Linked DNA regions of Homo sapiens: region 2 is linked to region 1. Evidence: fine-mapped expression QTL. A gene starts in region 1. The other region holds a variant in brackets. All regions are shown on one strand. Distances are between the middles of the regions.

Evidence for each region.
Region 2: its variant is fine-mapped to the expression of ABAT in testis (GTEx, PIP above 0.99).

Annotation. Positions count from the first base shown.
Region 1 is chr16:8,671,435-8,676,808 of GRCh38, reverse strand. ABAT (4-aminobutyrate aminotransferase) reads right to left here and starts at 2,192. Exons shown (of 16, transcript NM_020686.6): 1 at 2,098-2,192. RefSeq lists a silencer at 2,140-2,599 and enhancers at 2,194-2,693, 2,694-3,195.
Region 2 is chr16:8,716,020-8,721,393 of GRCh38, reverse strand. All of the region lies in intron 1 of ABAT (4-aminobutyrate aminotransferase), which reads right to left. Among named protein-coding and RNA genes, the nearest start is that of ABAT, 44 kb to the right of the region's middle. RefSeq lists an enhancer at 791-1,291. The variant G/T (reference allele first, on the strand shown) is at 2,588.

The DNA.
Region 1 (5,374 bases):
TGGGCAGGGGCTAAGAGGGAGGGGACCTTGGAGGGAAGGAATATGACATCCTCAGGACCTGTCCAAAGTTCTTGGAGCAAACCCAGCTATGCAAGTGAGGTTCCTGCAGTAGCCTCCACTCCAGCATCTCATTCTCATTAGCTGCAACTGATCTTATTAGCTATCCTGGGTCAGTTTGGATTTTGGCAAGCCTAGATTTGGCAATGGCCTCAACACAAAGATCGCACGGGGTAAGCAGGGATGCGCTGACACCCAGGAATGGATTCCACGAGGCAGCCTGCTGGGGGATGGCATTGAGTTCCAGCTCTGCCCCTTCCTGGCTTCATGACCTTTGCAGAGCCTTGGCGCTTCCTCTGACAAGTGGGGACTTGGGACCCAGCAGTCCCCAAGTCCCCATTGTAAATGTGAGGACTGGGGCTTGTGTCAGGGATCCTAGCACCTTAAGGGTCCTGGAGGGGTTGGGGCCAGCTGTCTCCCACAGGCTGGGTGACCTTGAGCAAGTCTCTTCCCCTTTTGTGCCTCTGTGTGTTTAACTGTCAAATGAAGGGGCCACGTCTTTAATGCAGAAGCCCTTTTAGGTCTTAGGACTCCAGACTGGACCATTTACCTCTCCCCGTGGCTAACCTCTTTGGGCCTCGAGAAAACACATTTCTCTATGACTCCACGCCGCAACACAGGCTCCAAAGAGCAAGACACAACTCACTGCCTCCCTCTCTCCTGCCTCCCAACCTGACCCACCAGAGAAGAGCTCTTCCCACCCCCTCCCCACCCCCAGGTCACCAACATCCTGTCCCTTAGTCTAGCTTCATCAAAGCAGCAAAGCCAACACTGTCTCCTCCCCAGTGGATGGGCCCAGCAGCACCCATTTCTCTTGGCTGAGTGCCCAGGGAATTCCACCAGGCAATGTCCACAGGCGCTTGCGGGGGTGCACACTTTAGGGGGGAAATGCGGGCCCTCTTGGAAGAGGGCCAGCTGTCCTCCCAGACTGCAAGAGAGAATGCATTGAACACAGCCTTTGTGCGTGTGTTGGGGCAGGGAGCGGGGGAGAGGTGGCGGGTGGTCTCTGCTGGTCCTGCTGCCTCAGAGGCCATCTCTGTTGTCAGAGTTTGAAGACTCCTGGAAGGGCCTCTAGGCCCCAGATCCCAGTTTTAAGAGCTCCAGTCTTACTAAATCTCGCTGAACCCCCTCTAGTCTTACCTTGGCCAGGGTGGGTGAGGAAAGGTGAGAGGATGTGAAATAGGTGGGGCAGCCAGGTGTGGGAGTGGAGTTGGGGTGAGGTGGAGAAGGATGGGATTGGGAGCGGTGGGAGGATGGTGCAGGGGGTTACTAGGATGGGGTTTGTGTGAAAGGGCTTGGGTGGAGTGGAGGGAGGTGGATGACTTGGAGGGGTGGCCAGACCTTTGCCCTGCTCCTGAGTATGAAGGTCCCTCATTTTACATCTTTACTGGGGAGGAGAGGGGAAATCCCCAAAAGCCTTTAATGTGGTGGTGTCAGAGGCCACCCTGCCTCTCTGACGGGTAGGGAGGGGTCTCCGGCAGGGCTAAGGGTGAATCATCTATCTCTCCAGAGCCCAGTATCTGGGGTGGGAGGGTGACTTGCAGAGTCTCTGCTCCGGGATTTCCTTGTCTTATGATGGGGGGAGAGCTTCCATTTGTCATGGAGGGGGAGGTCACTGTAATTTATAAGCTGAGAAGACCCCCATTATTCCGAAAGAGAGGGGAGAAGGAAGACACCCAAACTTAGTTTTCTAAGGATGGGGAAGGGGCATCAGTCTCCCAAGAGGTGAGGGGGCTCTAGAGACCTGGAGACCACTTTTTGGGGCCGCATTCTATTTCAAGCGGTAAAAGGGAGAGGACTTCTGTCTAGAGCTGGAGCCAGGAGGAAGGGCCCATTTCTGAAGGAGAAAGGAAGGTATTTTGCTCTCTGGGGGGTGGGAGCCCCTGTCTTTTCGGGGGAGGGCCCCGCGTCTTGGGAAGATGAGGGCTCCGTTTCCAGGAGAAGATGCCCAGGTTTTGCTCCTGGGGGCAGGGCAGAAGGACCTCCTCTCGGCTCCCCTCGGAAGGGCCCGTCCCAAGCCACCCGGCGCCTCGCGCTCACCTCCAGGCCCCGTCTCCGATCTGCGGGATCCGATCCGCCGGGTTCCGACTTGCGGGATGCGCGCCCCGAGTTCCGGCAGCGCTGGGTGTCTGCTCGACTTCCCCCAGCGACTCGCCGGACTCCCTGGCTCCGCCGAGCGTCCCGGCCAATCAGCGCCGCCAGCCCCGGCCCTCGCTTTCGCCACAGCCAATGGGTGCGCCCGCCACGGGCCACCGCCCCCAGGAGGGAGGTGGCAGGCGGGGCGGGGGCAGAGTCCAGCCTCCGGGGGCGGGGGAGACGGGGGCTGGGGCGGGACCCACCAGAGGGACCGCGAGGGCTGGGAGGGAGTCCTGGGACTGGGGAGGAGACGGCTGAGGACCCCCGTCAAGTTGTGGGGACCCTGACCCTCTGGGGGGCAGCTCCATAGGTTGATTTAACCTGGATCTTAATGGGCCATTTACACCCTCAGGGCTGCAGGCGAGTGTAACTCCACCTCCACCCGCGTCTCGGATCCGGTCTCTGGAGCTCCAGAGTCGGAATCAGAAGGGGTTCCTTTGCGGAGAAGGGAAGGAGCATCCCGCCCTCCCCACCTCACTCCCCATCTCGGCGCTCAGGGCCCTGCCAGCCCTTCTTGCTCCCAGCTACTTTCCTCCGCCTGGCCCCAGCGCTCCGGAAGACAAACAGGGCGCTGGGAGTCAGAGGTGGTTCCTTCTGCATGACCTGGAGCAGGTCACTGCGCCTCCTGATCCTCAATTTCCTGAAATTGGGACAACAGAGATTGTACCTCCTTCGTGGGTATAAACGAGACCCTAGATATGATGAAGGTGCCTTTCTACCGTTGTATAAAATGCTGTGTGGAAGATAATTAATACTCAGGTGTGACGGATGGATAGCCCCCCCACAGCTTTCTAGAGGTATTTGGAAAGAGGATGCAATCTTTCAGTGACAAAATCAAAGACACAAAGAACTGCTCATCAAGACAACAGGCGATCACCAAGTCCTCATAATGAATGAATGGATGGATGGAGAGTACAGACCTTAAAGGCAGAGAAAGAGTTCAGCTTGGTTCTCCCCACTCACCCTGATCACTGATAACTTGGTCTGTGGAGTCTTGTAGAACCCTGAGGTCTCTCCTCCTGCTGTCCAGGAATCCAGGCTGCCCTATCTCTGATTACACAAGCGCTATAGTCCTTGCAATTAAAGAATTAAGATAAAGTAAACACATAGATAAATAGAAAGCTGCCAAACAAATCATTCACCTCCTAGTGTCACCTCTGGGGACCCTCCCCCCCAACACACACACACACACACACACACACACACACACACACACACAGAGCAGTAAATAAGAATAATTGAGGCCTGGCACAGTGGCTTACGCCTGTAATTCCAGCACTTTGGGAGGCCGAGGCAGGCAGATCACTTGATGCCCAGAGCTCGAGACCAGCCTGGCCATCATGGGGAAACCCCCTTTCTATTAAAAATACAAAAATTAGCCTGGCATGGTGGCACCTGCCTGTAATCCCAGCTACCTGGGAGGCTGAGACATGAGAATCGCTTGAATGGAGAGGCAGTGGTTGCACTGAGGTGAGATGGCACCACTGCACTCTAGCCTGGGTGATTGTCACCTTGCTTGAGGAACTTGATGAGGCCTGTGCTGAAAATCTAGCAATTTTTTCTTAAAACCAAAGCCATGAACATAATCCCCTTTACTACCCTTGACCTGCCCAAAGAAATACAACGGCCAATAAACATGGGAGATGACACTTTGAAAAGGAAAGGCAAGTTAAAACCAAAAGAGGGAAAGAGTTTACCTACCAAAATGACCTTGTTTTTATTATTATAATTACTATTCTTTGCAAAGACTTCAAGGAGTTTCATGTATTGATGATGGCAGTAGAAAGATCACAGCCTTTCTGGAGGGAAATTGGGTATTTCTATTTTAAAAATCTTAAAAGTAAGTTGACCCTTTGATCTAGCAATCCAATCCCTATGAACTTATCTGAAAACATTTAAAGGTACAAAGATTTAATGATAAAGTAGCTTACTACCATTTTGTTTATCACAGGGAAAAACTGGGAACAACTTGAATGCACAACAGCAGGGACTCAGAGGGAAATTGTTGCATGAAATTGAACAATAAACATAGGTATGAAATATTGAATGGGGCTGGGTGTGGTGACACGCCTGTAATTCCAGCACTTTGGGAAGCCAAGGCAAGAGGATCGCTTGAGCCAAGGAGTTCAAGACCAGCCTGGGTAACATAGTGAAACCCTGTCTCTACAAAAAATACAAAAATTATCCGGGCGATGTGGCGCATGCATGTAGTCCCAGCTACTCAGGAGACTGAGGCAGCCTTGAGCCTGGGAGGTTGAGGCTGCTGTGGGCCAAGATTACACCACTGTACTCCAGCTGGGTGACAGAGTGAGACCCTGTCTCAAAAACAAAACAAAACAAATCTCAAAATGTTAAGTTATTTGCAAAAACAGTATATTTGGTACTGTCTTACTTTTTGTTAAACATCTTACTTTTTGTTAAATCTACCAGGTAGAGCTAGATCAATGCTGTGTAATATAACTTTCTATGATGCTCTATATCTGTGCCGTCCCGTGTGGTAGCCACTAGCCACATGGAGGTATTGAACACCTGAAATGACTAATTTTGGTATCCAAGATGTTTAAAAAAAAAAAAGAAAGAAAGAAATAATAAAAAAAGGAAAAGGGAAAAATAAATTTAAAATTTTGGAAAAAGCAATGACTAGTTAACCGAATAACTGTATTTTAATTGTATCTATTTATTTATTTTTTTAGAGACGGAGTCTCGCTCTGTCACCCAGGCTGGAGTGCAGTGGTGTGATCTCAGCTCGCTGCAACCTCTGCCTCCCAGGTTCAAGCGGTTCTCCTGCCTAAGCCTCCTGAGTAGTTGGGATTACAAGCGTGCTCCACCACGCCTGGCTCGTTGTTTAATTTTTTAATTTTTAGTAGAGACAGGGTTTCGTCATGTTGGCCAGGCTGGTCTCAAACTCCTGGCCTCCAGTGATCTGCCTGCCTCAGCCTCCCAAAGTGCTGGGATTACAGGTGTGAACCACCACGCCCAGCCTGTATCTAATTTTAATTTAAGGTGTAACAGTAACAGGTAGCTAGTGGCTATCATATTAAAAGGCACCGATATAGCTAGCTAGCAATGCTGAGTGAAAAACTGTGTTCAGTAGGAGAATGGTTATTTTTGTGTATTGAAATTATAGATTATTCTAATATTACTTTATTTGCATGTCCATGTCAGTAATTTCTTTTTATCC
Region 2 (5,374 bases), 45 kb before region 1:
GAGGCTGAGAACTACTGTTAATTACCATAAAGAGTGGACGGTGGGCCCTGCATATGACCACAGGACTTCATGATCCTCAAATCCCTGGAACTGGAGGTCAAACATCCCATGGATACAGGGAGAAAAAAGCCTGTGGAGGCAGAGTGTGAGGTGCTGGATATGAAACTGCTTCTTCCCTGCATCTCCCCAATCTTGCATCCTTCAAAATGATCTTACCCCCAGACTAGACATCCCTGGCCTCTCACTGACCCGCCGTATAACCTCAGGCACATTAAGTAACGTCTCTGTGCCTCAGTTTCCTGATCTGTAAAATGGGAGTAATAGCAATTGGAACTATTTTGTGGGCTGGCAGAAGTCCTTACTGTTTCCCCAGCCCCAGAGCAGTGCCTGCCTGCAAACAATCATTGAATAAACAGTAAATGCTCAACAAGCAGCCTATGAAGATGGCGTCTGACTCACCTTTCTACTCCGCTGCTTCCCAGGTCCTGTGAACACGAACTCTTTGCATGCATCATCGGCTAGAAATGGACCCCCCAGATCTCTCTAGAAAAGACCCTGCCTCTCATTTTCCTATCAGCCGTTGGGACCAAGACAAAAGTGCTGGCAGACGCTGAGGACATTCCTTTCCCGTCTGCAGCCCCAGCTGCTGGCTTCTCTGCAGACTCAAAGGGACACAAAGACACACTCAGCCAAGTGCACTTCAGTTGTCAAGGCCAGGGGTTGCCATAGCAACCCATAAAGCCGGAGCCGTGGGCCTGTGCAGATGGGGTTAACAGGGCCCCATTCAGGGGCAGTGGCACAGGGACAGAGGCTTTATCTCACATCCACTTTTCTCCTCCGACTTCAGCTGCAACAGCCTCTTCTGACTTTCCCCTCCGCATGGGCCCCAGCCCTCTCTCCCTGCAGGCATGACTTCCTATCACCTGCCTCTTGGGCATCATAAAATTATCAGTGACTTGTATAGGGAGACAGAAATACTGTTCTTGGAAACAGGCAAATGTCCATTCCTAAGAAAGACTGAGAATGATGTGGGGAAAGTAACAAGAGCCAGAAATTGGGTCTAAAGTGTGGCTGGGCCATATATATTACCTAGGCAAGTTGCTGAACTCATCAGTGCCTTAGTTTCTGCATCTGTAAAATGGGAAGAATGAAATCTATTTGTGGGGTCAGGAGGCACTCAACTGGCTTAGGGTCAATTGAAGAAAGTACATAGGATGTGGAAGAGATGCCTGTTGCAGGCCATTTTCTGTTTCCAAAGAGCTCTTTAAAATTGTGCATTTTGGCTGGGCGCGATGGCTCACGCCTGTAATCCTAGCACTTTGGGAGGCCGAGGCAGGCAGATCACCTGAGGTCAAAAGTTCGAGACCAGCCTGGCTAAAATGGTGAAGTCCCAACTCTACAAAAAAATACAGAAATCAGCTGGGCGTGGTGGCAGGTGCCTGTAGTTCCAGCTACTTGGGAGGCTGAGGCAGGAGAATTGCTTAAACCTGAGAACCGAATGTTGCAGTGAGTAGAGGTCGTGCCACTGCTCTCCAACCTGGCGACAAGAGTGAAACTCCATCTCAAAAATAAGTAAACGAGTAAACAAAAATTGTGAACAACTTCTTTTTTTCCTTCTCCTTCTCCTCCTCCTCCTCCTTCTTTCTTCTTCTTTTTTTAGACAGGGAGAGACAAGGTCTCACTACGTTTCCCAGGCTGGACTTGAAGTTAGTAAAGGCACTTCTTCTATGGCCTGATGAGCTGCTAAAGACTATTGGCACATGCGGTGGTCCTGCTACCAGCCTCAACATCCAGATTTCATGAGAAAGAAGCTGATCTGCCTCATCCTCATGCTCCTGTCTCAGAGTCCTCTCTGCCCACCTCAATCAGGAATCCAGGGAGAACGAACACATCGTTGCTAGCAGGCAGGTAGTTACCCAGCCTGTGAAAAAACTGGAGAGAAAAATGAACAGACAGGGCTTCACATCCAAGCCTCCGAATGTGAGACACAGATAGCCTTTGTTCTGGAGGTAGGAAATAATATGGAAAGAAACATCTGCAAAAGGATAAGCTAGCTTTGGATTTCTGATCCTACAAGGGAGGAGGAGTGAAAGAATGGAATTGGCTTAGAAAGGATGCTTGGACCCATGCTGAAGTAGCTACCCGGGCCAACGCCACAGAAGGTCCGGCTTGTAAAATCTGTTTGTTCAGTTCAATAAATGCTTTCTGCACACCTGTGCCGAGCCCCAGAGATTCCTCAGTAAACAAGGACACGTCCTGCTGTGTTCTGTGGGATCTCGTGTTCCCGTGGGGAGGCCCAACAAGCAACAAACAAATCAGGTCGGTGTGATTGGAGGAAACGCACTTCCCGTTCAGAGAAAACAAACCACTTTCACGGACTCCAGAAACCGCTAAGTACGCAAAAATCACAGCGTATAACAAGTGAAACATTTATATTTCCTTCAAGGACCACACAGCTCCAGACTTGGAAACACTTTGTTGGTGGCTGGAGTCACGCTGTGTGCCTGGCAGCATTCCTACATGCACTTGCAAAGACCTTAACTTTTCTGTAATTCAAAGTATCTTTCATTTATGCCTGTGTGTGCAG[G/T]TATCTGCTCTGATTTTACGAATGAATGCCAATCGTGTCAAGGTTTCACATACACCGTCTTATCTACTCCTGGGAGGCAAATACTTCTATTCCTGTTGTTCTCTAAAACCCTGCCCCCTGACTGAGGCTGCCATTTAGGGGTCATCTTCCCAGAGGCAGGGGCTGGCTCAGGGGACCTCAGAGACCAGCTCTGGGAAGCATGTACCTGGAGGGTGCCCTCCATTTCCAGGGTCCAGAACGGTGTCTGGCTATTGTAGGTGCTCAAAAACACTTGTTGAATTCAATCATGGAGTTTCAGCCCTATACTCTGACAACTACAGGAACTGAACTGAAAAGCAACCTCTGAGTCCCATCCGTCAGATTAATGCAATGTTTCTCAAACTTTTTTTCATTGCCATTCCCCTAAAGATTCTTTATTAGCTACATACCCCATGAAATTTTAATTCCACAGATAAATTGTACATCTGCTTATGTATTGTATTTTATATCTGTACTTTATTCATAAAGAGTAAGATTTCTTTTCTTTCCCATAAATGTTCACTCTCTTGGGAATACTGATCCCACTAAGAATGCAGGGATTAAGCGCACACCTGCCATGTGCCAGTTGCTGGGTTGGACATTTGTTCTGCTTCATCTTATTCCATTCTTGCAACAGTATTACACAGTATGCATCATCAGCGCTATGAGACTGAGGATGAGACTGAGGTTCAGAGAGGGTTGTGGCTTATCCTGTGTCACACAGCTTGTCAACGGCAGAGCCAGTCTTCAAACTCGGGTCTGTGAGGCTTTAAAGCTAGTGCTGTTCTGTTTCCTTGCACAGAGAAATAACATGCCCAAGCTCACCTCATGGAGAAGAGGTGACCTGGGACCTGATGTGTAATCCCAGCATGTTGGGAGGCCAAGGTGAGAGGATCGCTTGAGCCCAGGAGATTGAGATCAGCCTGGGTGACAGAGCGAGACCCCATCTCTAAAAGAAAAAAAAAAAGAGGTGATTTGGGATTTTAATTTAATTCTTAAATTAGTCCTTCTGATTCCAACTTCAGTTTCTTTTTACCCAATACGTTGCCTCAAAAATATCTTTAGGCTACTTGACAAACTCACTGGGTATAAAAATCAGTGTCTTGGACTATCTTAAGAGAGAAAGGAACAGAAAAGAAGGAACAGAAAGAGGTGCCTGATGGATTGATTGGGAGACTCTGGTCTAAGCTACAGCACCAGGGCCAGTGTGTATTAATGTAACTTAGAAATCAATTCACTGCACTGTCACCTGCTGGTCTGGTTTGGTTTGGAGTCACAATGAAGGCACAGGTAGTATGCTCTAAGACAGTACTGCCCAAAAGAAATATAACACAAGCTTTCAATGCAAACCACATAGGTAATTTTACATTTTCTGGTAGCCATATGAAAAAAGCAAAAACAGCTGAAACCAATTTTTTTCATGTATCTTATTTAACCCATTGTATCTAAAATGTAATAATTTTGATACATAATCAATATAGTTATTATTATTACTTTTGAGATGGAGTTTTGCTCTTGTTGCCCAGGCTGAAGTGCAGTGGCACAATCTCGGCTCACTGCAACCTTCGCCTCCCAGGTTCAAGCGATTCTCCTGCCTCAGCCTCCCGAGTAGCTGGGATGACAGGTGTGTGCCATCACTCCTGGCTAATTTTTGTATTTTTAGTAGAGACAAAGTTTCACCATGTTGGTCAGGCTGGTCTCAAACTCCTGACCTCAAGTGATCCACCCGCCTTGGCCTCCCAAAGTGCTGGGATTACAGACGCGAGCTACCGTGCCCGGCCATCAATATAGTTATTAATAAGATATTTTGCATTTCTTTTTCGGATGTGTGCTAAGTCTTCAAAATCTGGTGTGAATTTCACACTCACAGCACATCACAGTTTAGAATAGCCACGTCTCAGATGCTCAATGACCAGATGTGATGAACGGCTACTGTACTGGCCTGTGCGGGCTGACGCATTGCATCAGAATTGGAGTGTGGTCACAGGAACATACAATCTGACCTGCTGAAATGCCACGGCCTGCCTGGGCCTGTCTGCTGCAATGACGTAGGCACAAGTAGTTTAGTCTAGGAGAGGCTCTCAACGGGATCCAATAAAAAGGGAGAGCAGACAGGGCTGGCTACATGATGTGTGGGACCCAGTGCATAAAATAAATATTCGAGGCCCCTTGTGAGAAAATGGTTACGAATTGCAAGTCAGTGACATGGGGGGATCTTCTGAACACGGGACCCTGTGTGACCATATAGATCACAAACCCATGAAGCACGCCCTGGGTACAGAAGAAAAAACACCCTTCAGGTTTCCCCATCACTGGCCAAGGTGAGGGTGCTGGGATCACGACTGCAGCAACAAATACAATTAGCAGCAGCAACAGCAGACACTTGCTCAGCGCTTACTTTAGGCCAAACCCTGTTCTAAGTTCTTTATATATCATAATACCCATCAGAACAACCTTCTGATATTATAATTATCCACTCGTAGCAAAAAAAAGAAAAAAGGAAACAGATCACAGAGAGGTTAAGTGATTTGCCCGACATCACACAGCCATGTAGTATCTTTAGTACTAAATTTCACAAAACAGGGGGTGGGGGCATAATGTGGCCTGGGCTTACAACTAGCTGTGCCTCTGTTTTCTCCACTGGAAAATGGGTGTGATAGAGCTCTCCCATCCCCAAGCTGCTCTGAGGATGAAATGAGATAATCCACGCGCAAAGCTAAGCAGAGTGCCCAGCCTGGGCACTGGAAAATCTTCAGACCCACATAAAAG